Linked DNA regions of Homo sapiens: regions 1, 3 and 4 are each linked to region 2. The links come from fine-mapping of genetic effects on gene expression. A gene starts in region 2. Each other region holds a variant in brackets. All regions are shown on one strand. Distances are from middle to middle. Region 1 holds the start of PLAC9 (placenta associated 9). Region 2 holds the start of ANXA11 (annexin A11). Region 3 overlaps ANXA11 (annexin A11). Region 4 overlaps PLAC9 (placenta associated 9).

Region 1 (5,308 bases), 70 kb after region 2:
GAGGCAGGAGCAGGTCTAGAGGAGGCTATGGGAAGGGACTCCTCTTTTTTTTTTTTTTTTTTAGACAGGGTCTCACTCTGTCACCCAGGCTGAAGTGCAGTGGCACAATCATGGCTCACTGCAACCTCTTCTTCCCGGGTTCAAGCAATTCTCCCACCTCAGCCTCCAGAGTAGCTGGGACTACAGGCACACACTACCATGCCTGGCTACGTTTTGTATTTTTTGTAGAGATAGGATTTCACTACGTTGCCCAGGCTAAGCTCAAACCCCTGGGCTTAAGTGATCCGCCTGTCTCGGCCTCCCAAAGTGCTGGGATTATAGGAGTGAACAACCGCACCCAGTCTGGGACTCCAAATTTTAACTCAATTCTCTCAGCTGAAACTGGGCTGCTCAGCTTGGAGAGGAAAAGCTCTGAGGGGGCCTCTGTTGTCACCCACAGAGTGGCCGTCCTAGGGGAGGGCCTGTTGTCATGAGTCTGTGGATACACATACCCCCCTGCTGGCTCTGTCCAGAGGCCTTTGGCCAAGCCTTTTCTCTGAGGCTCACCTGCCCTCTCCCAGACCCTAGCCACTCTCCCGTGTAAGGCTCAGGCCAGGGGGATGCAGTGTGACCCTGCCAGCCAAATGGGAGTCTGGCTGCTTTGGAAGTCAGAACAACCAGAGCCTGCTCCCCTCCACTGGCCTAAACCACCCTGTTCTCTACGTGTCTGTGATGAGGTCTAACTTGGCTCCAAAACCCCTCCAGGGAAAAGGCTGGGCTGAGGTCGCTCCCAACATGGCTCAGCACTAATCCTTCACATCTGGACAAAACTGTGCTTTGTGCACCCTGGAGCAACTGTCCGTGAGCTCATCGGGGCCTCCACAGAGTGCATCTGAGAGAGCAAGCTTGGAGCAGGGCCTGACATTGTACTGCCAGCATCCTCACCACAGCGCTGACTTGAACGCATCATGGTAGAAAACATGCTGGAGACCCCTTTTCTCAGCCTGGTTCAGCCACTAATGATTGTGGGATTGTGAGAAAGTTTCTTCTGCTCCCTGAGCCTCTGCTGCCTCTTACATAAAATGGGGTAGGGTAGGCCTGAGGCCCTGACTCCCCCGTGTAGCGCATCCTTAATTCTTCTGTCTTTTGGAGGCTGCAGAGAGGCCTCAAGAATTAGCTAGACGAGCTGGGCTCGGTGGTTCACACCTGTAATCCCAGAGCTTTAGGAGGCTGAGGCAAGAGGATCGCTTGAAGCCAGAAGTTTGAGGTCACTCTGGGCAACATAGTGAGACTCTGTCTCTACAAAAATAAATAAATAAATAAATAAATAAATAAATAAAATAAAAATTAAAAAAAAATTAGCCAGGATTGGTGGTATATACTTGTAGTCTCAGGTATTTGGAAAGCTGAGGCGGGAGAATCGCTTGAGCCCAGGAGTTTGAGACTACAGTCAGCTACGATTGCACCACTGCACTGCAGCCAGGGTGACAGTGAAAGACTGTGTCTTGTAAGAAAATAAATAAATGAATAAAAAATAGTAGACACGCACATGCACCACAGGGCTGTCAGTGGCTCAGACAAGGGGAGTGGAAAAGACTGAAGGATTATGATGATTAACCCTGAGCAGCCAAGGCTGTGGCTCCTCAGGGCTCCCTTCCTTCCTTTCCTCCCGCTCTCCCAGGCCCTGCCAGTTGGGAAATGGACCTCCTTGGATGCTGCGTTGTTTTCTCTGGCCCGGCTCCTGCTAGGGGCCTGATGTGCACCCTGGATGGTGGCCATGGGTGGGGCATCCTGTGCTGGTGAGAACACGCTGCTGTGGAGCCCGGAGGCCCCAGAGGAGGGCTCGGCTGGGCTGGCTGCCCCAGTTAAAGAGACGTGGCCCCTGGGTCCCATCCTCTGAGGCGGAAGTACGGGTGCTTCTACTTACAGGCCTTATGGGGAGACCTTTTGTATCTGGACCCAAACAGTAAGAAAGGGCCACAACACAGATGATTTCTGCATGCTGGGGGTTGAGAAATGTTTTCTCAGTGGCATCTGAAAGGTGCCGCTGTATCTTCTGAATTGTCAAAGTCACACTCTGCTTTGAAAAGCAACCCTGGCCACTTGGGGGTTAATTATATTTGACCACATTCAACATAATAGAATAATAAATTTACCACATCCAATATTTGTATTAAAATGTATGATTCACTCAAAACCATCCACGGGTTTTGATCATTTTTGAAAGCAGCAGAAAACTATTCTTCAAGTGATTTTATAAAAAACTCCAAAATATGGGCCGGGCGTGGTGGCTCATGGTCTAAAAAGCCATCAGGGATAAAGGTTTCTCTGAGTGCTGCTAAAAGAAACCAAGACTTGGGCCCAGCGCGGTGGCTCATGCCTGTAATCCCAGCACTTTGGGAGGCCGGGGCAGGCTGATCACTTGATGTCAGGAGTTTGAGACCAGCCTAGCCAACATGGTGAAACTCCCCCGCAGCCCCCGTCTCTACTAAAAAATGCAAAAATTAGCTGGGTGTGGTGGTGCACACCTGTAATCCCAGCTACTTGGGAGACTGAGGCACGAGAATTGCTTGAACCCAGGAGGCAGAGGTTGTGATGAGCTGAGATCGCACCACTGCACTCCAGCCTGGATGACAAAACAAGACTCTGTCTCAAAAAAAAAAAAAAAAAAAAAAGGCCGGGCGCAGTGGCTCACACCTGTAATCCCAGCACTTTGGGAGGCCGAGGCGGGCAAATCACAAGGTCAGGAGATCGAGACCATCCTGGCTAACACAGTGAAACCTCATGTCTACTAAAAATACAAAAAAAATTTAGCCGGGCATGGTTGCAGCCGTCCGTAGTCCCAGCTGCTTGGGAGGCTGAGGCAGGAGAATGGTGTGAACCCGGGAGGCGGAGCTTGCAGTGAGCGGAGATCGCACCACTGCACTCCAGCCTGGGAGACAGAGCGAGACTCCATCTCAAATAAATAAATAAATAAATAAA[C/TAAATAAAC]AAACAAACAAACCAAGGTTGGAAGTTGGACGTGCTAGAGATAGCTCTCAATTTATAGAAAATATAAGGGGTGGAGGTATTTAAATGACATAAAAGGGATGCAATTAGCAAAATCTAAATGTGGAAAACTTTACAGGACAAACTTAGTTTCTTCAACAAAAACAAAAAATTAAGTAAAAAAAGGGGAGAGAAGACTTACATATTTAAAGAGATCTAACAGACATATTGACCAAATGCAGTGTATGTAACCTTATTTGGATCAAACAAATGAATTGCAAAAAGATATGACACAATCAATCAAGGACATTTGAACAGTGATTGAATATTTAATGATATTCAATCACACACAGTTTTTGGAGTATGATCATAGCATTGCAGTTATGTTTATTAAGAGTGCTTATCTCTTAGAGGTACACAAAGAAATATTTATAGATGAAAATACATGATGCCAGGCCAGGCATTGTGGCTCACACCTGTAATCCCAGCACTTTGGGAGGCCAAGGCAGGTGGATCACTTGAGCCCAGGAGTTCGAGACCAGCCTGGCCAACATGGTGAAACCCTATCTCTACTAAAAATACCAAAATTAGTCAGGTGTGGTGGTGCGTGCCTGTAGTCCCAGCTACTCAGGAGGCTGAGGCAGGAGAATCAGTTGAACCCGGGAGACGGAGGTTGCAGTGAGCTGAGATTGTGCCACTGCATTCTAGCATGGGTGACAGAATGAAATCCTGTCTCAAAAAAAAAAAAAAAAGAAAGAAAGAAAGAAAGAAAATATACAATGCCTGGATTTCCTTTAAAATAATCCAGGGAGGGGAGAGAGGGTGGAGGCTATAGATGAGATAAAACTGCCCATGAACTGATACTTCTTGAAGCAGCGTTGATAAGTATATTACATGATTCTTTCACATACTATTACTTTGTATTTTTTTGTATCCAAAAGTTTTCATAATCAAAAGTTAAGATATATCATCTAAAATCTGAAAGATTATGCACAAAAATATATGAAATCAGTGTGAAATTACACTAATACATGAATACTTTCCTCCTTTCCTTCTTCTTTTTTTTTTTTTTTTGAAACTGAGTCTTGCTCTGTCACCCAGGCTGGATTGCGGTGGCTTGATCTCGGCTCACTGCAACCTCCGCCTCCCAGGTTCAAGTGATTCTCCTGCCTCAGCCTGCCGAGTAGCTGGGACTACAGGCATGTGCCACCACGCCCGATTAATTTTTTGTATTTTTAATAGAGACAGCATTTCACCATGTTAGCGAGGCTGGTCTTGATCTCCTGAGCTTGTGATCCGCCCGCCTGAGGGGTAGGTGAGGGGAAGAAAGCGGACAGTGAAAAGCAAGGAACCCAGCTAATGGAGTACCCAGACAGCCTCTCTCCTCCGCACAGCTCTCCACCTCCACCCAGTCCCCCATCTCCACCCAACATAGCTCAGTTTCCCAGAGAAGCTCCCTGGAAACCGGGAGGCTGACTTCTTCACTGACTGCAGATCCACCTGAGGCCACCTGGCAGGTGAATCGGTGGCCTTTCTCCTGGGCCCGACTGCCTGGTTCCTTAAGGCTGTGCTGGGCTAGCCTGGGTCACTCATCCTTTGGAGTGTGGCTTCTTATGCAATGTCCTATAAAGCCAGGCCTGAGCCTCCACAGGCCCTCTGAGATGGAGCTGGCCTCCGGGGCTGCCCCACCCAGCAGCTGTGACCTCCCACTCCAGATCCTGGCTCCTTCTCTCTTGCCAGCTCTACTCCGGGCATCGAGCTTCCCTCTCTCTCCTTTTTGGTCTCTCTCAAATCTTTCTCTTTTCTTCAATATCCTCTCTCCCTCCACCCCTTGCCATTTTAATCACTTTTTCTCTTTCCTTCTTCTCTTTTGTCTCTCAAACTCCTTTTTCTTTCTATCTTAGTTCATATCTGTTCAGGGGAAGCCTCTTTCTGTCTCAGCCTCTCCTTTTTCCTTTTCACTGTGTATTCTTCCCTATCTCCTTTATCTCTCCGTTGCTCTACTTCTCTGCCTTTTTCTGAGTCTGTTTCCTCTCAATCTTTCTCTCCATCCCTCCCTCCCTGCATCTGCCTCTCTGTCCATCTCGCTGCTGTGTCCAGCTCTCTCTCCGTCTCTCTCGCTCATTCCTTCCTCGCCATCTGCGGGTCTCCCCGGCTCCAGGTCCCCTGCCGCGCCCTGCGCCCCACTCACCGGCCAAAGAGCCCGCGGCGCGGAGCAGGGCCAGTCCGGTCAGCGCGCAGAGCAGGGGCCGCATGGTGCCGGCCTGGCCGAGCGCAGCGCCGCGTCTGCCCGCAGCCGCCCTTCCCGGATCGCACCCGGCCGGCCCGAGAGGAAATGCACTCAGTTCGA
Region 2 (5,308 bases):
CGGGGCTAAACGCAGGTTTGTTGAAAATTATAAAAGGGTAAGCCCAGGGGTAGCTATTCACCATTCTGGGTTTGAAGAGCTCTGATGCAGAAAGGTGTATACATCCAGCAGGAATTCCACCCTACATGATTTATTATAAACGTGGTATTCTAGGAGCATTCGCTCAGCCACGGAGAAAAATGGGCCTTTCGAAGAAGCTGGCCTTCGCGGTCGCTGTGGGGCGGCAGAGCAGGCGCAGGCGTCCAGGCAGTGGGGGCTGGGTAGGCGCCAGGAGACCTTCCCGGACCAATCCCCGGGCCCAGAGAGAGCGCCTGGAGACCTTACCTCCCCAGGAAATTCACACAGATTTCTTGGGGGCTTCACACCCGCGCCCCCAGTCCCGCCATCTCCTACGCCGCAGCAGGCGCCCCCACCAGGGTAATAACCCACTCTGAGAGTCTCTGGTGGTGCCTCTGATCCTCTGCTCTTCTGTTCCAGGCAGCGTTTTCTCCGAGCGGCTCTGGAGACTTTGGCCTGAGTTTCACCCTCACTCGCCGACTCATGTCCAAAAAATGCAGTCCAGCCCCGAAAGAGAGCCGCGCCTGCTGGTGGGGGTAGGGGGTGTTGGAGCGGCCACGGAATATGACTGAGCGCCCGGGGCCCGTTGTGAGGCCGGGGCCAGGCTGTCCCAAGGCACCGTTCCTGCCCGGCACCAGCACACCTGCCCAGACAGGGAGAAGGTCGGAGCCTCCCCTCCAGTCCTTCCGGATTTTATTGTTCAGAGCGACTTTAAAACGCAAATCGGGCCGGGCGCGGTGGCTCACGCCTGTAATCCCAGCACTTTGGGAGGCCGAGGCGGGCGGATCATTTGAGCCTAGGAGTTCGAGAACAGCTTGGCCAACATAGTGAAACCCCGTCTCTACTAAAAATGAAAATTAGCCGGGCGTGGTGGTGGGCATCTGTAGATCCAGCAACTCAGGAGGCCGAGGCAGGAGAATCGCTTGAACCCGGGAGGCGGAAGTTGCAGTGAGCCGAGATCGCGCCACTGCACTCCAGCCTGGGCGACAGATCGAGACTCCGTCTCAGAAAAAAAAAAAAAAAAAGGAAAATCGAACCAGCAGCTTGTTTGTAACAGCCAAACATAGGCAACAACCTAAATGTCCTTCAGTAAGGAGCTAGGTAATGAAGAATGGTGAAGCGCACGATGGCGCGCAGTGTGCAGTGGATGGGAAGAACCAGGTCTGTTCAGGAGCACTTGTATGGAAAGACCCTCCAAGATATAGTGAGTAAAAAAACATGTTGCAGAAAAGTACTGCAATATCGTTTTGTAAACAATACGTTTATGTAAACACACACACACAGTGTTAAAGAGAGATATTTGGAAGGACACACCTAAGAGTGGGCTGGGGGAGTGGAGGGAAGAGTGAATCTCAATTTTTACTCATTTTTTGAATTTTTTATTTTTAGTTTTTTAGAGACTGGGTCTCACTATGTTGCCCAGGCTAGTCTGGAAGCCCTGTCTTCAAGCCATCCTCCTGTCTTGGCCTTCCAAAGTGCTGAGATTACAGGCGTCAGCCACCACTCATTAAAAAAAAAAATTGTATACCTACCATATATGCATATATTACCTGGGTGACCTTTTAAAAATATGCTTTATTTTTAGAACATCTTTAGATTTACAGAAAAAGTGTGAATACAGGGAATTCTCATAAACCCGGGCTTTTCCTATTATTAACATCTTAAGTCATTTTTATATCTCCGTGGGTTCCTCTTGGCTGTGACAGTGTCCTAGACTTTCCTTGTTTTTGATGACCTTGCTAGTTTTCAGGAGTACTGGTCATGTATATGGCAAGGGCCTCAATTGATTTGTGATGTTTTCCTCATGATTACAGTGGGGTTAGGTGTTCTTGGGAGGAAGACCACAAGCGGTGCATGCAATCAGTATGATTTACCCCTGTCGAGGTCACCTTGACGGCTGGGTGGTTTGTCAGGTTTCTCCACGATAGTCACTGACCGCTCCCTTCCTCACATACTGTGCGTGACCTTCCCCCCTCCACCACCACCGAGTGTTGCTATAAAGGAAATGCGTTTGACCTTTTCAGTGTAAAAAGTTTTCTCGACCTTAAAGAGAGTCACTAACCGACGCACACGGGGCTGGAGAGGACTTAGGAAATGCCCACCCCTGCAGGAGGGCGAATGCGGCTCTGCGCGGCACTGGGCGCCGCAGGGGTTAGGGGCGGCAGAGGGACCTCCGGAGCCCGAGACTTCCTGGAGCAGCTCCGCAGCCGGAAGGCTGCTGCTCCTCGCGGGCCCGCCGTGCCCAGTCCTCATCTTGGGGGCGGGGCCGCGCTCAGGCCCCGCCCCTCCCTTGCACTGCCTCTGGCACCTGGGGCAGCCGCGCCCGCGGAGTTTTCCGCCCGGCGCTGACGGCTGCTGCGCCCGCGGCTCCCCAGTGCCCCGAGTGCCCCGCGGGCCCCGCGAGCGGGAGTGGGACCCAGCCCCTAGGCAGAACCCAGGCGCCGCGCCCGGGACGCCCGCGGAGAGAGCCACTCCCGCCCACGTCCCATTTCGCCCCTCGCGTCCGGAGTCCCCGTGGCCAGGTGAGTGAGGGTCCCGAGCCGGCTGGGGGCCTGGGACCAGGCGGCGGCAGTGCACCGCGGCGCCGCGGGTGAGGCCCGGGGCTGCCTGGCGCCCAGCCCAGCGCGGCCCTGCGGCTTCCTGGTTGCACTACAGGCGTGGGGGTGGGGGGCAGGGGAGGGCGTCGGCGGGTCGCGGGCGGGCCGTGTCGGCCTGGCAGCCCCCTAGATCAGCCTCGGCGTCTGGGGCTGCTCCCTCATGTGTGGTCGGGGTGCACTCGCCGTCCCCCCGGGCTCAGGGGTCGGGGTCTCAGTCTGGGCCTGGGTAGGGCCAGGGGCCGTGACCCTGGGCGCAGGAGGCAACGGGTGGCGGGAGGGGTGCCGGAGGCCCGGCCCCGCAGCCCTGCGGAGCCCTCCAGGGTGCGCGCGCCCTTCTAGGCGAGGCTTGGGGAGATTAAGCAGAGAAGGCTATCTTCAGGAACTTTCCTCCGAAACTGGGAGCACGCACATTCCTGGGAGCTGCTACCATTGCAGTTTATTTGTAAGGAACTCTCCCCAGTGTTTGAGGGAATGCGGGAGCCATCCCAGGTGCTGTGCGTGCCTTCGCCCCTTCCCCAACCTTGATCCCCAGTTTCAGGAAGGGATTCCTGGACTTGTATCTCCCATGGGTGCAGGCCAGGCCCTTAAGACTTAGGTAAAATGGTCTGTTGGTTTAAAGGAGACACGCGAAGTTTGTTACCTAGAGACTTTGGAGGGGAAAAGTTAAGCCAGCCAGTGCTAGCCCAAGCTGGAAACAGTCAGCCCGGGGCATTTCTGTCTCTGCCCTCCAATCCTTGACCTCTCTGTAGAGATTCGGCGTTTGTGGTAGCTCTCCCCTCTGTTCTCTGCGCTGGGCATGGAGTGGAGCTGTGAGGCCGAGCCCCTGCCCTGCCCTGCCCTGCCCTGCCCACGCAACAGGGACTAGGTTTGCAGGGCAGGGCCTGGTATGCTCACCCTTCACTGGCTCTCATTGCTTTCCTCATTCCTTTTATGCGGCAGTCAATTGTTGGGGATTCCAGGGGATTAACAGGGCCCCTTTCCTCAAGGCATTCTTTGTGCTGCAAGGTGTTCCCTGATAAGAGAGGCCAGGTGAGGTGCCAGGGCAGTTTGTTGCCCTGGCATTGGGTGCCCACTACTTCAGGCTCCTGCATACCTTGCTATCTTTTCTTTGACTATTGTCTGTGCTTTGGTTTTTCATCTGTAAAATGGGGGTAATAGTAATCCCTGCCTCACAGGCTTGTGAGATTCAGTGCATTCATTTATTTAATAACAATACAGAGCTCAGGTACGGACCAGTCAGAACAGGTGGTGACTGCTGCACCACACTTGTGTATCCCAGATGGGTGTCACCCACATTAGCCATAAAGTGTGTGAGGCAGGCCTGGGTCATAAATAATCAGGTGTAAGGGTCAATAAATAGTAGCAGTGGAAGGTTCAGCTAAAGTTGAAATGCACTTCTCCTGAACCGTCTTTCTGGCTTAGCTCATGCTAAGCTCATGCTCTCTGTCTTACTGGAATGCCCTCCCTCCCCTGTCTGGCCTAGCATTCTCCACCCTCCTGGGAGCCATCCGGGTGCCTGCTCCCAGCAGGAGGGACGGGATATGCTCTGAGCTCACTCAGCCCTTCTGGCACTGACTCGGTTCTCATCTCTCGCCTTGCATAGTATTTGTGTGGCGGTGTGGCTTATCGCTGCCCTGTCCTCTGACTCTGGAGGGTGGGGGCTGTTTCTGACTTACCTCTTGGTGGCAGCACTCAGGATGGGCCTTGCCTAATGTAGGTGCTCAGAAAATTAGTTGTCGTTAGTTGAACAACAGAGACAGCACAGGGAAGTGGTTTCCCTGTGGTTAAAATATAGGACCTTGAAGGCTGGGTTTGGATAGAGAAACGTGGGGAGGGTGAGATGGAGATGAATTGGGACTAAGAGGTGGGAGTGGAAGCCTCACCTGACGCCTTTATGCATGATACTATAGAAAGGGCCCACCCTGGGTGGATGTGTCTAGAAGGCCAGGATCGATTAGTGATGCCTAGTTCACGTGATTGGGGAGGTGATGTGTGGCTTGGGATGACAGGAGTGGGAGTTGAGACAGAATAGGTTAGTGTGGGTTCTTCTTGGAAATTGTAGAATAGAGAAAAGAAACTGGTGTGGGCAGGAGCTGAATGTGGAACCAAAATGCATGCTGAATGCTGGAACATCAGAGGTCCTGGGACCTTTCTGGTGCACCCCCTCCTTCCTCCTGGATTCACCCCTCTTCTTCTGCTGTCTTTTTTTTTTTTTTTTTTTTTGAGACAGATTTCGCCCTGTCACCCAGGCTGGAGTGCAGTGATGCAATCTTGGCTCACTGCAACCTCCGCTCCCTGGGTTTAAATGATTCTCCTCCCTTGGCCTCCCGAGTAGCTGGGATTACAGGCATGCACCACCATGCCCGGCTAATTTTTGTATTTTTAGTAGAGACGGGGCTTCACCATGTTGGCCAGGCTGGTCTTGAACTCCTGACCTCAGGTGATCTGCCTGCCTCAGTCTCCCAAAGTGCTGGGATTACAGGCATGAGTCACCGTGCCCGGCCTCCTCTCTCTTCTTAGCCACTGTTTTCCCCCGTAAGCCTGAAGCAGTTCCTGGCACTTGTTCCCATGGGGAAGCGTCTGTGTAAGGGTATGCTTCACCAGCACTGCCAAGGAAGTAGACTTTTCACTTTCTCTGGATTTTTCTCTGCAAC
Region 3 (5,308 bases), 45 kb after region 2:
TGCCCTGGTCTCAGACCTGCTGCTCCTGCAGGGTCTGCCTTATTCAGTGTCTCTCTGGCTGGTAACATCCATTCCCATTCTGGGAGTCAGGGCTGGACACGCCTGGGGCTCAGGGCTCTGGCTTTTGCTCCAGCGAGAGTTTTGCATGCCACTTTTAGCGGGGCAAAAATTGTCTCATGCTCTGCCTTCTCAGTCCAGAGCTGCTTTGGCCTCATCTTGACCTGTGGGATCTCAGCCCCTGATTGCTGCTTTCTGCTCTTTTTCAGGGCTGCTACCTGAGGCCTAGCAGGCACTTTAGAGGCCATCTAGTTCAGAGGTTGCAAATTGGCAAATACTTTAGGCTCAAACCTTCAGAAGTTTACCAGGCTCTCCTGGGTGACCTGGGCCTGGGGTCTGGGTGTGGCCTGTGCCACATGTGCGTCTTCCTCTCTCTCCAGGAGCTGTATGCGGCCGGGGAGAACCGCCTGGGAACAGACGAGTCCAAGTTCAATGCGGTTCTGTGCTCCCGGAGCCGGGCCCACCTGGTAGCAGGTAAGGCAGGCTGGGGTCCCTCAGAGGCCAGTTAGATGAGGGCAGTCAGGGGATTGTGGGGAAACAAAGCTATGGGAACACTTGGTCGTTCCTCCCTGCGTGGGGCTTTCGCCTCCTCAAAAGAGCCCCCTGGTGGGAATTTAAAAGACACTGTCAGAGGGTTTCCTGAGTTCTGGCAAACATCCAGTTCTGGAGGTTCTACCGGTGTAGAAACCTGGTGTCTTTGTACGTGGGAATGTGGAACGTCAGAGTTGGGAGGGTCCTTCGGGAGCACCCAATCCAGTGTTTTCCAAAGCCTGGCATAAGAAACAGTCATAACAATAAAACTGGGTGCCATTCATTTACTCATTCATTCAACAGATGTAAATCGCGCTCCCGCATGGGTCAGTCTGTCAGGTGGTGGAGCAGGTGTGGGGCCACGGTGGGGGGCAGGGCACTGCAGAGTGTGTTCCATGGGCTGCACTTTCTCATTTGGGGAGACAGACAGTAAACAACAATGAAATAAAATCTGTATCAGATGGGAAATCCTGTAGAGGAAAATCAAGCTGGAAACAGGTAGGGAGTGATGGTAGGGTCCACCGGGAGGTGCTTGGGCCAGTCCCCACTGAGGTCGTGACATTTGATTTAAAAACCTAAAGGGAGATGCAGGGGCAGAGGCCTGCCTGGGGCTCCCAGCACGACTGAGAACAGTGAAGGGGGACCATGTGGAGCAGGTGGAGTGAGCAAGAGGAGTGGGAGGTGAGGGCAGAGAGGGGAGAGGGCCCTGCTGATGACTTCCCGGAGCTGGGTATTTATCCTGAGCAAAAGAGGAAGCCAGTGGAGGGCCCTGAGCAGAGGAGGCTGTGCAGAATCCCTGGCTGTGGTGCCGAGAATGGAGTGAAGGGTGCAAGGCCAAGCAGCGAAGCCTGTCGGGAGGCTGCTGCAGGGACCCGGGGAGGAATGGTGGTAATAGGGGCTTGTGGTGAGGAGGTGTCAGGTTCCGGCCATGTTTGCTGATGAATTGGACACGTGACGTGTGGGAGAGAGAGGGTTCGAGGATTATACAGGGTTTCTTTAGGCCAAGCAGTGGGAGAATGGCCCTCAACTGAGACAGGGGGACTGTAGGTGGAGCTGGCTTTAGGTGCCTGTAGGGTGGAGCTGCAGGGAGGCTGCTGGGTTGCTGAGTGTGGAGGTCAGGAGAGGTCTGGCCTGGTTGTGGAAGGTAAGGGAGCTATGGGTAGTTGAAGTTATCTGAGGCTCTGGGACTGCAGGAGGTCCCCTCAGGAGGGAGACTGTGGGGAGCCCACCGGTGTGAGGAGACTAAGAAGGAGCAGCTAGGGAGGGAGGAGGACGCAGAGGAAGGGGGTCCTGGAGGCCAGTGTGAGGTGGCAGGCAAGGACTGAGGATGGTGACCACACGGAGCAACTGGTGGGCTGTGGCCAGGGCTGCTCCAGTGGGCAGTGAGGGTGAAAACCCAGCGACCGCTCTGTGCTGCACACAGAGACAGGCGCTGTGGCTCTCCCCATTCGCAGCTGTGAAAGCAGGCACAGGGTGGTAGAGGAAGTAGGGGTGCACAGCTAGTAACAGCTGAGCTGGGATTTGAACCCAGACCACCCGACCCCAGAGCACACTTTTTAACCTCTGCACTATCCTGTAATGGAGCCTGAGTGAAAGCATTTTCATCTTAATCATTATTTCTTTTAATGAGTACAGAACATGTAAGTAGTGCATCAAGCCCATGGCTTCACAAACATTATTACTTAGGAGAAAAGAGTAGCTGATTGGAAGAAGATATTAATTGAGACAGATACACACAGAGCAGAAATCACAACTTTAAAATGCAAATGGTAGCTGAGACTCAGGCTGGGGAAGGAGAGTTTTATGTCCTGGGTCAGAACTGGAGTCAGGACC[A/G]AGGTCTCCATCATGCCACCTGTCTCTCTAGGAGCCAGCCATCCACTCCTGTGGGTGCTTAGCGTGTCCTAGGTCGAGGTGAGCAGCAAGAAGCCAGGCTGGCTGGGGCAGGCTGGGCCTCAGCTCACAGGCAGGCTGAGGAAGACAGATGGATGCATGAATAAAGCCAAGGAATGGCAGAGACTGGAGGTGTGGAGGATTTGAGAAGAGGGGACACTGTCTTGGAGTACATGGGAGTGGGCCCTGGAGGGGTATTAAGGTGCGATTTGGTTAAGCAGATTGGCAGTCCTGAGAAAGGGACCACACAGGGAGGGACATCAGGTGGTGCATGTAACTTGTGACGAAGACTCTGACTTCCTTGAGCGCTAGCAGGCCTGGGGACGTGCAGGGTGTGGGAGCAGAGTGGCAGGTGGGAGATTTTGGGGCAGAGGCCACCTCATGTGAGTCCTCTGTTAGTCTGCTCATGCTGCCATGACAAAATACCACAGACTGGGTGGCTTAAGCAGCAGATACTCATTTTGTTACAGTTTTGAAGGCCAGATATCCAAGAGTGGGGTGCCGGTTTCTCCCGTGGCCTCTTCGTGACAATCACTGTGCTCACATGGTCTTTCCTCTGCATGTGCACATCCCTGGGATCTCTGTGTGTGTCCTAATCTTCTCTTCTTCTAAGGAGACCAGGCGAATTGGATTAGGGTACACCCTAGCAGCATGTTTTAACTTAATTACCTCTTTAAAGATCTTATCTCCAAACACGGTTATATTCTGAAGTCCTGGGAGTTGGGACTTCCACATATGAACTTTGGGGAGACACATTTCAGTTCATAATATAAGCCTCTGTCATCCCCATAGTTTTCAATGAGTACCAGAGAATGACAGGCCGGGACATTGAGAAGAGCATCTGCCGGGAGATGTCCGGGGACCTGGAGGAGGGCATGCTGGCCGTGGGTAAGTGTCTCAGGTTTGCCGCCCACCTGCCAGGGGCTAACGTGTATCGTGAGTGTTCAGGCTGCTCGCCTGTCCTCCAGCTGATGGGTGACACCGTGAAGGGACCACAGGATCCAAGATCGCTCAGCCCAGAGTGTCCAGATGCTGGGAAGTCATGCTGCTTCCCGGTTCCCTGTGCAGTTGAACCCCTAGCTGTCCTGGAGGTGTCTTGTGTGTGTTTGCGGTGCAGCTCTGGAGTAGGGAACTGCAGTGTGGGTATTAGTGGGAGGGCATCCAACTGCGCTCCCGGAGGAGTATGACTCATATCCTGCCACGTTTCCTCTAAAAATACATCCCTGCAGGCAGTTGTCAGATGTTTGTGATGGAAACACGTGGAAAGATTTTTACTTGCAGCAGCGAAACAGGCCCATGCTGAGGAAAGCTGGCTTGGCTCCAGGATGGTGGTGTGCCTCTTACATTGCCCATGTCCTCTAGCAGGGCCCTCCCACTGTGCAGAGTTGGGTCCCTGCCCTGAGGCCCTCACAACCCCTCTTTCTACTCACTTGGGAAAATCAGTCTGCCCCTTTTTTCATTATGCTTTTTTTGGAGCTTTCTGGATGGGAGAGATGGAAAATCCTCATTTCCCTGCCTGTCCCCCATAGTAGGTCTCATGGCCTGGGAAGCCTAGGGAGATGCACATTCCACTCAGCCACGGTTTCTCCATGACGGTCATGGCCTCTCCAGTCTGCCCCTCCTGCCTGAGCAGCAGCACAGTTCCTCATCACCATCCACATTGCTTCCCTGTGTAGCTCCTAGCCCCACTAAGACCCCCGCCCCTCTGACTCTTGGTCCTTTCACCGCAGTGGTTGCCAGGAAAGAGGGTGGGTTGGTTTCCAGGCTTTGCGTGTTTCTGTTCCAAATAGCTGGAGCCAAGATCATGGGATAGTTGAGCCTGGAACAGAAGGAGGAGGAGAAAAGATGGATGCAGTGATGGGTTTGACATCTGGGCCTCTAAGAGGACACTTGTAGACTCCATGCCCTGCTTGGGCTGAGAATTTTCTGCAGATCTGGTTATGCCGAGTTTCTCTCTTCTAGTGAAATGTCTCAAGAATACCCCAGCCTTCTTTGCGGAGAGGCTCAACAAGGCCATGAGGGTATGTAACTTCCATGTGCAGGTTGCGATGGAACCTTAGCCTCGCCTGTGCCTGGGACCAAGGGCTGAGGGCAGAAGGCCTGGGGAGAGCTAAATCTCAGCTGAGAGTTCCGAGGACCTGGGTAGGGAGGGGACTGGAGGGCCCAGGGCAGGTGGGAAGGTGAGGAGGCCTGGTGCTCATGCTCTTGGGTGGACTCTCTTTAGGGGGCAGGAACAAAGGACCGGACCCTGATTCGCATCATGGTGTCTCGCAGCGAGACCGACCTCCTGGACATCAGATCAGAGTATAAGCGGATGTACGGCAAGTCGCTGTACCACGACATCTCGGTACGGGCCTGCTGCAGGCCAACTGGGCTCCCTTTTGGCATCTCAGTCACCTGTGGAACCTCCCTCCTTGGAGTGGCCATATGCTTGGCCTCTGTGCTGTGTGTGGGCATCTTGATTATGGACCTCGGACTTGTTCATCCCCTTGCCCTTAAACAGATTATAAATTTCTGAGGGCAGGTGGATCATGACCTTGCTGTCGCCCCCACCTTGCATCCCCCAGCAGCATCAGAGAACACTCGGGACCTCCCCAACCTTGACCGTGACCTTCAGCGTTCCGATCACCGTGTGATTCCTTGATCTGTCAGTGAGAACTCATGTCCCAAAGGCTCTGTGGAGCTCTGCTGTCACTCCCTGACAAAGCACTTCCTGCACTCAGCTTTATGGCGTAGGCCACATAGTAAGGCCGTTCAGAGCGAGGGCCCTGGGGGTCACGCCACTTGGAGTCCAGCTTTTCTACTTGCTAACTGTGTGACCTTGAATGGC
Region 4 (5,308 bases), 58 kb after region 2:
ACAAATAAAAAATTCATTGGAAGGGTTCCAGAGCAGACTTAAAAAGGAAGAAGACAAAAATCAGCAAACTTCAAGATAGGTCAATTGAGATTACCCATTCTGAGGTGCAGAAAGAAAACAACAACAACAAAAAAGCTAACTGAGCCTAAGACACCTGCAGGACACCATCAAGTGTACCAACATACACCTAATAAGAATCAAGAGAAGAGTGAATGTAGAAGAAATTTTTAAAGAAACAATGGCTGAAAACATAATGAAAGACATTAATCTACACATACAAAAAGCTCAATGAATTGTAAGTAGGGTCAACTCAAAGAGACACTCAGTGTGACATTGAAACACATTATAATCATACTGTCCAAAAGCAAAGCAAATCCTGAAAGCAGAAAGAGCCACTGGACACGTACAAGAAATCTTCGATAAGATTAATAGCCAATTTCTCATCCAACATCATGGAAGTGAGAAGGCAATGAGATGACATATTCAGTGTGCTGAAAGGAAAATCTTGGGTGGTCTTGATACTTGTAGATGTTCATCTGTGTCTGAGCATTGAAGAGTTAGGTATTTATCATAGTCTTCACAGTCTGTGCTTGTTTGTACCTATCCTTCTTGGGAAGGCTTTCCAGATATTTGAATGGCTTGGGTGTTGTGCTCTAAGCTGTATCTGCTTAAGGATTCACCCCAAGCCCAATAACACTTTGGTTTTTTTTTAGCCTCATAGAGTTACTGCCTTGATGGTCTTGGACAAGATTCAGGATTCTCTGTATTACCATACAGAGACTCTTGTTCATTCCGTTACTGTCTCCCAAACAAAGGGAGTCCCTTTCTCTGTTCTAAGCCACCTGAAGCTGGGGGTGAAAGGACACAAGCACCCCTGTGGCCACCACCACTAGGACTGCACTGGGTCAGACCTGAAAGCCAGCACAGCACTGGCTCTCACCCAAGGCCTGCAGTTACCACTCCCTGGCTACTGCCTGTGTCTGCTCAAGGCCCTGGGGCTCTACAATCGGCTGGTGGCAGAGCCAGCCAGGCTTGTGTCCTTCCCTTCAGAACAGCAAGGTCCTCCAGGCCCCAGCTGGGCCCAAAGGTGCCATCTGGGAGCCAGCAACTAGGGTAAAAAATCTTAGAAGTCTACCTGGTGTTCTGTTATACTGCAGGTGAGCTGGCACTGAATCCACAAGATGCAGTCCTTCCCTCTCTTGCTTCCGCTTTCCCAAGGCAGAGGTGCCTCACTCCATGGCCACCGCCACCACAGGCCCACAGGGAGTACTGCCAGACTACTGCTGATGTTCTCTTAAGGCCCAGGGAGTCTTCAACCAGCTGGTGGTGAATGCTGCCTGGCATGGGACCCCCCCCTCCAGGGCAGTGGGCGCCCCTCTGGCCCAGGGTAGGTCCATAAATGCCATCTAAGAGACAAGTCCTGGAATTGGCATTCCCAAGAACCATTTGGTGCTTTACTGTCCTGTGGTTGAGCTGGTATCTAAGGTGTAAGACAAAGCCCACTTTACTTTTCCCTCCACTTTTCTCTAGCAGGAATCTTGCCTTGTAACCACCACAGCTGGGAATGTGCTGGCTGAATCTGAACCTGAAACCGACAAGACCGAGTCTCACCCAAGGCCCTCAGCATAGTACCCAGGTATCTCTGCTGGTTATTCAGGGACCAAGGGCTCTTCAGTTAACAGGCAATGAATGCAGCCAAGACTGGGTCCTTTCCTTCAAGGCAGTGGGTTCCCTTCCAGCCCAGGGTGTGTCTAGAATTGTGGCCCAGGAACGAAAATCCTGAACAACATGCTGGCAGACTAAATCCAGCAGCATATTAAAAGCATTATACACCATGACCAAGTGAAATTTATCCCAGGACTGCAAAGGTCATTTAATATATGAAAATCAGGCCAAGCACAGTGGCTCACTCATGCCTGTAATCCCAGCACTTTGGGAGGCCAAGGCGGGTGGATCACCTGAGGTCAGAAGTTCAAGACCAGCCTGGCCAACATGGCGAAACCCTGTCTCTACTAAAAATACAAAAATTAGCCGGGTATGGTGGTGGGTGCCTGTAATCCCAGCTACTCGGGAGGCTAAGGCAGGAGAATTGCTTAAACCTGGGAGGCAGAGGTTGCAGTGAGCTGAGATCGTGCCACTGCACTCCAGCCTGAGCAACAGAGTGAGACTCTGTCTTAAAAAAAAAAAAAAAAAAATCGATGTAATGCATGTAATTAATAAAATGAAAGGGGAAAATCACATGATCATCTCAATTGATGCAGAAAAAGCATTTGAAAAAACCCAACATCCTTTCATGATTAAAAAAACACTCAACTAAGACTAGAAGGAAAATGTCTCAACCTGCTAGAGGGCATCTATGAATAAGCCACAGCTAATATTGCAGGTGGGAATGTAAAATAGTACAGCTGCAATACAAAAGAGTTTGGTGGTTCTTCAAAAAGTTAAACGTAAGAGTTACCATGTGACTCAGCAATTTCATTCCTACATATAGACCCAAAACAAATTAAAAAACAAATATTCACACAAAAACTCATACGGATGTTCATAGCAACATTATTCATGATAGCTAAAAAATGCAAACAACCCAAATGTCCCTCAATTGTCGAATAAATGAATAAAATGTGGGCCAGGTGTGGTGGCTCACACCTGTAATCCCAGCACTTTGGGAGGCTGAGGCGGGTGGATCAAGAAGTCAGAAGTTCAAGACCAGCCTGACCAACATGGTGAAACCCTGTCTCTACTGAAAATACAAAAATTAGCCAGGCGTGGTGGTGTGCACCTGTAATTCCAGCTACCCAGGAAGCTGAGGCAG[G/A]AGAATTGCCTGAACCCGGGAGGCAGAGGTTGCAGTGAGCTGAGATCATGCCACTGCACTACAGCATGGGTGACAGAGCGAGACTCTGTCTAAAAAAATAAAAGAATAAAATGTGGTATATTCATACAATGAAACATTATTCATCCGTAAGAAGGAATTAAGTACCGATACATGCTACAATACAGATGGCCCTTGAAAACATTATGCTCAGAGAAAGAAGCCAGATACAGCTAGACTACGTATTGTGTGATTCTACCTACAGTACTACCCCCTTACCTTCAGGGGATAAATTTCAATACCCCTAGCAGATGCCTGAAACCACAATAGTATCTAATCCTATTATACTATGTTTTTTCCTATGCATGCATACCTATGAAGTTTAATTTATAAATTAGGCACCATAAGAAATTAGCAACGATAGCTAAGAATAAAATAGAACAATTAGAACAATATGCCAGCTTCTGTGAAGGGAGAGTTGTGTGAAAAACAACAACCATATGCCAGCAGCACTGCTCTTGCACTTTGGGTCTTGATTAAGAGAAAGAAGTGTTGCTGGAACACAAGCACTGTGATACTGTGGCCATTGATCTGGTAACTGAGAAGGCTGCTAAGTGACTAACAGGCAGGAAGTGTAGACGGCGTGGACCATGCTGGACAAAGGGAGCATTCACATCCGGGGCGGGATGAAGTGGGATGGCAAGAGATTTCATCACGCCACTTAGAATGATGTGCAATTGAAAACTCATATATTGTTTATTTCTGGAGTTTAATATTTTAGGACTGTGGTTGACTGCAGGTAACTGAAACCATGGAAGGTGAAACCACAGATAAAGCCGGACTACTGTATTTAAAATGTCCAGAATAGGCAAGTTCGTGAAGACAGAGATCAGTGGTTTCCAGTGGGGTGTGGGGAGCGGGAATGGGATGTGACTGCTTAATAGATACACAGTTTCTTTCTAGAGAGAGAACAATGTTCTGGAACTGGTGGTGATGACTGCACAACTTCTGAATGTACTGGAAGCCACTGCATTTGTACAATTTTTTTTCTTTTTCTTTTTTTTTTTTTTGAGACAAGGTCTCACTGTCTCCCAGGCTGGAGTGCAGTGGCATGATCATGGCTCACCACAGCCTTGACCTCCAGGGCTCAGGTGATCCTCCCACCTCAGCCTCCTGAGTAGCTGGGACTACAGGCACGTGCCACTATGCCCGGCTAATTTTTGTATTTTTTTGTAGGGATGGGGTTTCACCATGTTGCCCAGGCTGGTCTCAAACTTCTGGGCTCAAGTGATCCTCCTACCTTGGCCTCCCAAAGGGCTAGGATTATAGGTGTAAGCCACCGCCCCCAGCCTTGTACAATTTAAAATGGTTAAAATGATGAATTTTACATTGAATTTCACTTCATAGGAAAAATTTTTAAAAACAACAACAAACCACTTTAATGGACACATAAAATCCCTGGGGGTCTCATTGCAATGCAGATTTGGATTAAACAGTCTGGGTGGGTCCTGAGACCCTGATCCCCTTGCTTTTCACCTATGGCCACATTTTGAGAAGCAAGGCCACTCAAAGGGCCCCCATCTGTGTGAATCAACCCCTGCTCCATCTGCCCCTATAAATGACAGGAGTGGGGGTGTCCCCAGGTCTGAGCCTGGAGGGGGTTGCAGGCTTCCTCCAGGCATGGAAGTGGAGTGAGAGGAGGCTGTAGTTAAACGGGTTACTCTGTCAGCAGACACAGAGGAGACCAGAATAGCTTTTATTTCACATGAAGCTAAGGAAGGAAGTCGAGAGGACAGGGCTGGTTCTGTGGGCGCTGCCTGGCAGGTGCACCACCTCCAACTGCTGGGCTCCAGCTCCAGGGCTCAGAAGCCATCTGAAAGAAAGCAGAGGCCCCCAGTGAGCAAGCTGGGGTGCCGCAGAGTACCTGCCCCCGTGGTGCCCAGCAGTTCCTTCCCTTCCCTCCCCGGCCCCCAGGAACTACTGCGCGCGGGACACAAGGATCAAGGAGAGAGCAGAGTGCAACCCCAACCCTGCCTGATCAGTGGGGACGCCCGTCTTCCCTGCGAGAGTTTTGGGGTGGAACAGGAGTGGCTGCTCAGGGGAAAATTAAAGGAGCTGAGAAGCTCCAGTCGTGAGAAGGCTAATGAAGGAGGCAGTTTCTCCGCGCAGGGGTTGTGCTGAGATGGCATCTAGGGCCGGCTCTTCCAGAACCTCATTTGACACTGGGCGGCAGCCACCGGGTGTGGCAGGTGGGGCGGGGCGGGCGGGGAGCAGGGATGATGCCGTCCCGCTTCCGTCCCCAGGGAGCGCTGGGGCCCTCCCTGCCAGCCAGGCTACACCTGTGCAGTGGAGCAGCCGTCCCTGTCTCGCCTGCCCAGCGCCAGATGACAGCCGCCCAGAGGCTGTCCTCTGCCACCTGCACTGCTCACCTCCGAGAAGGTCGGGAGCGGGGCTGAAGGGTCCCGGGGGCAGGTTCCAGGCCAGCTCCTCCAGCAGGCC

The links.
Region 1: its variant is fine-mapped to the expression of ANXA11 in whole blood (INTERVAL, PIP 0.98).
Region 3: its variant is fine-mapped to the expression of ANXA11 in whole blood (INTERVAL, PIP above 0.99).
Region 4: its variant is fine-mapped to the expression of ANXA11 in whole blood (TOPMed, PIP 0.97).

Annotation. Positions count from the first base shown.
Region 1 is chr10:80,132,668-80,137,975 of GRCh38, reverse strand. It overlaps PLAC9 (placenta associated 9), which reads right to left and starts at 5,246. Exons shown (of 4, transcript NM_001012973.3): 1 at 5,150-5,246. The coding sequence starts at 5,213. The variant C/TAAATAAAC (reference allele first, on the strand shown) is at 2,962.
Region 2 is chr10:80,202,614-80,207,921 of GRCh38, reverse strand. ANXA11 (annexin A11) reads left to right here and starts at 2,385. Exons shown (of 16, transcript NM_145868.2): 1 at 2,385-2,579. It overlaps LINC00857 (long intergenic non-protein coding RNA 857), which reads right to left and starts at 212. Exons shown (of 2, transcript NR_038464.1): 1 at 1-212. RefSeq lists enhancers at 104-745, 1-975, 746-1,387, 4,027-4,106, 4,607-4,696 and a silencer at 2,162-3,041.
Region 3 is chr10:80,157,158-80,162,465 of GRCh38, reverse strand. ANXA11 (annexin A11) reads left to right here. Exons shown (of 16, transcript NM_145868.2): 12 at 438-531; 13 at 3,271-3,366; 14 at 4,441-4,499; 15 at 4,703-4,825. Among named protein-coding and RNA genes, the nearest start is that of PLAC9, 27 kb to the right of the region's middle. RefSeq lists enhancers at 3,446-3,987, 3,085-4,284. The variant A/G (reference allele first, on the strand shown) is at 2,422.
Region 4 is chr10:80,144,274-80,149,581 of GRCh38, reverse strand. PLAC9 (placenta associated 9) reads right to left here. Exons shown (of 4, transcript NM_001012973.3): 3 at 5,239-5,308; 4 at 4,223-4,682. The coding sequence ends at 4,672. Among named protein-coding and RNA genes, the nearest start is that of PLAC9, 14 kb to the right of the region's middle. The variant G/A (reference allele first, on the strand shown) is at 2,813.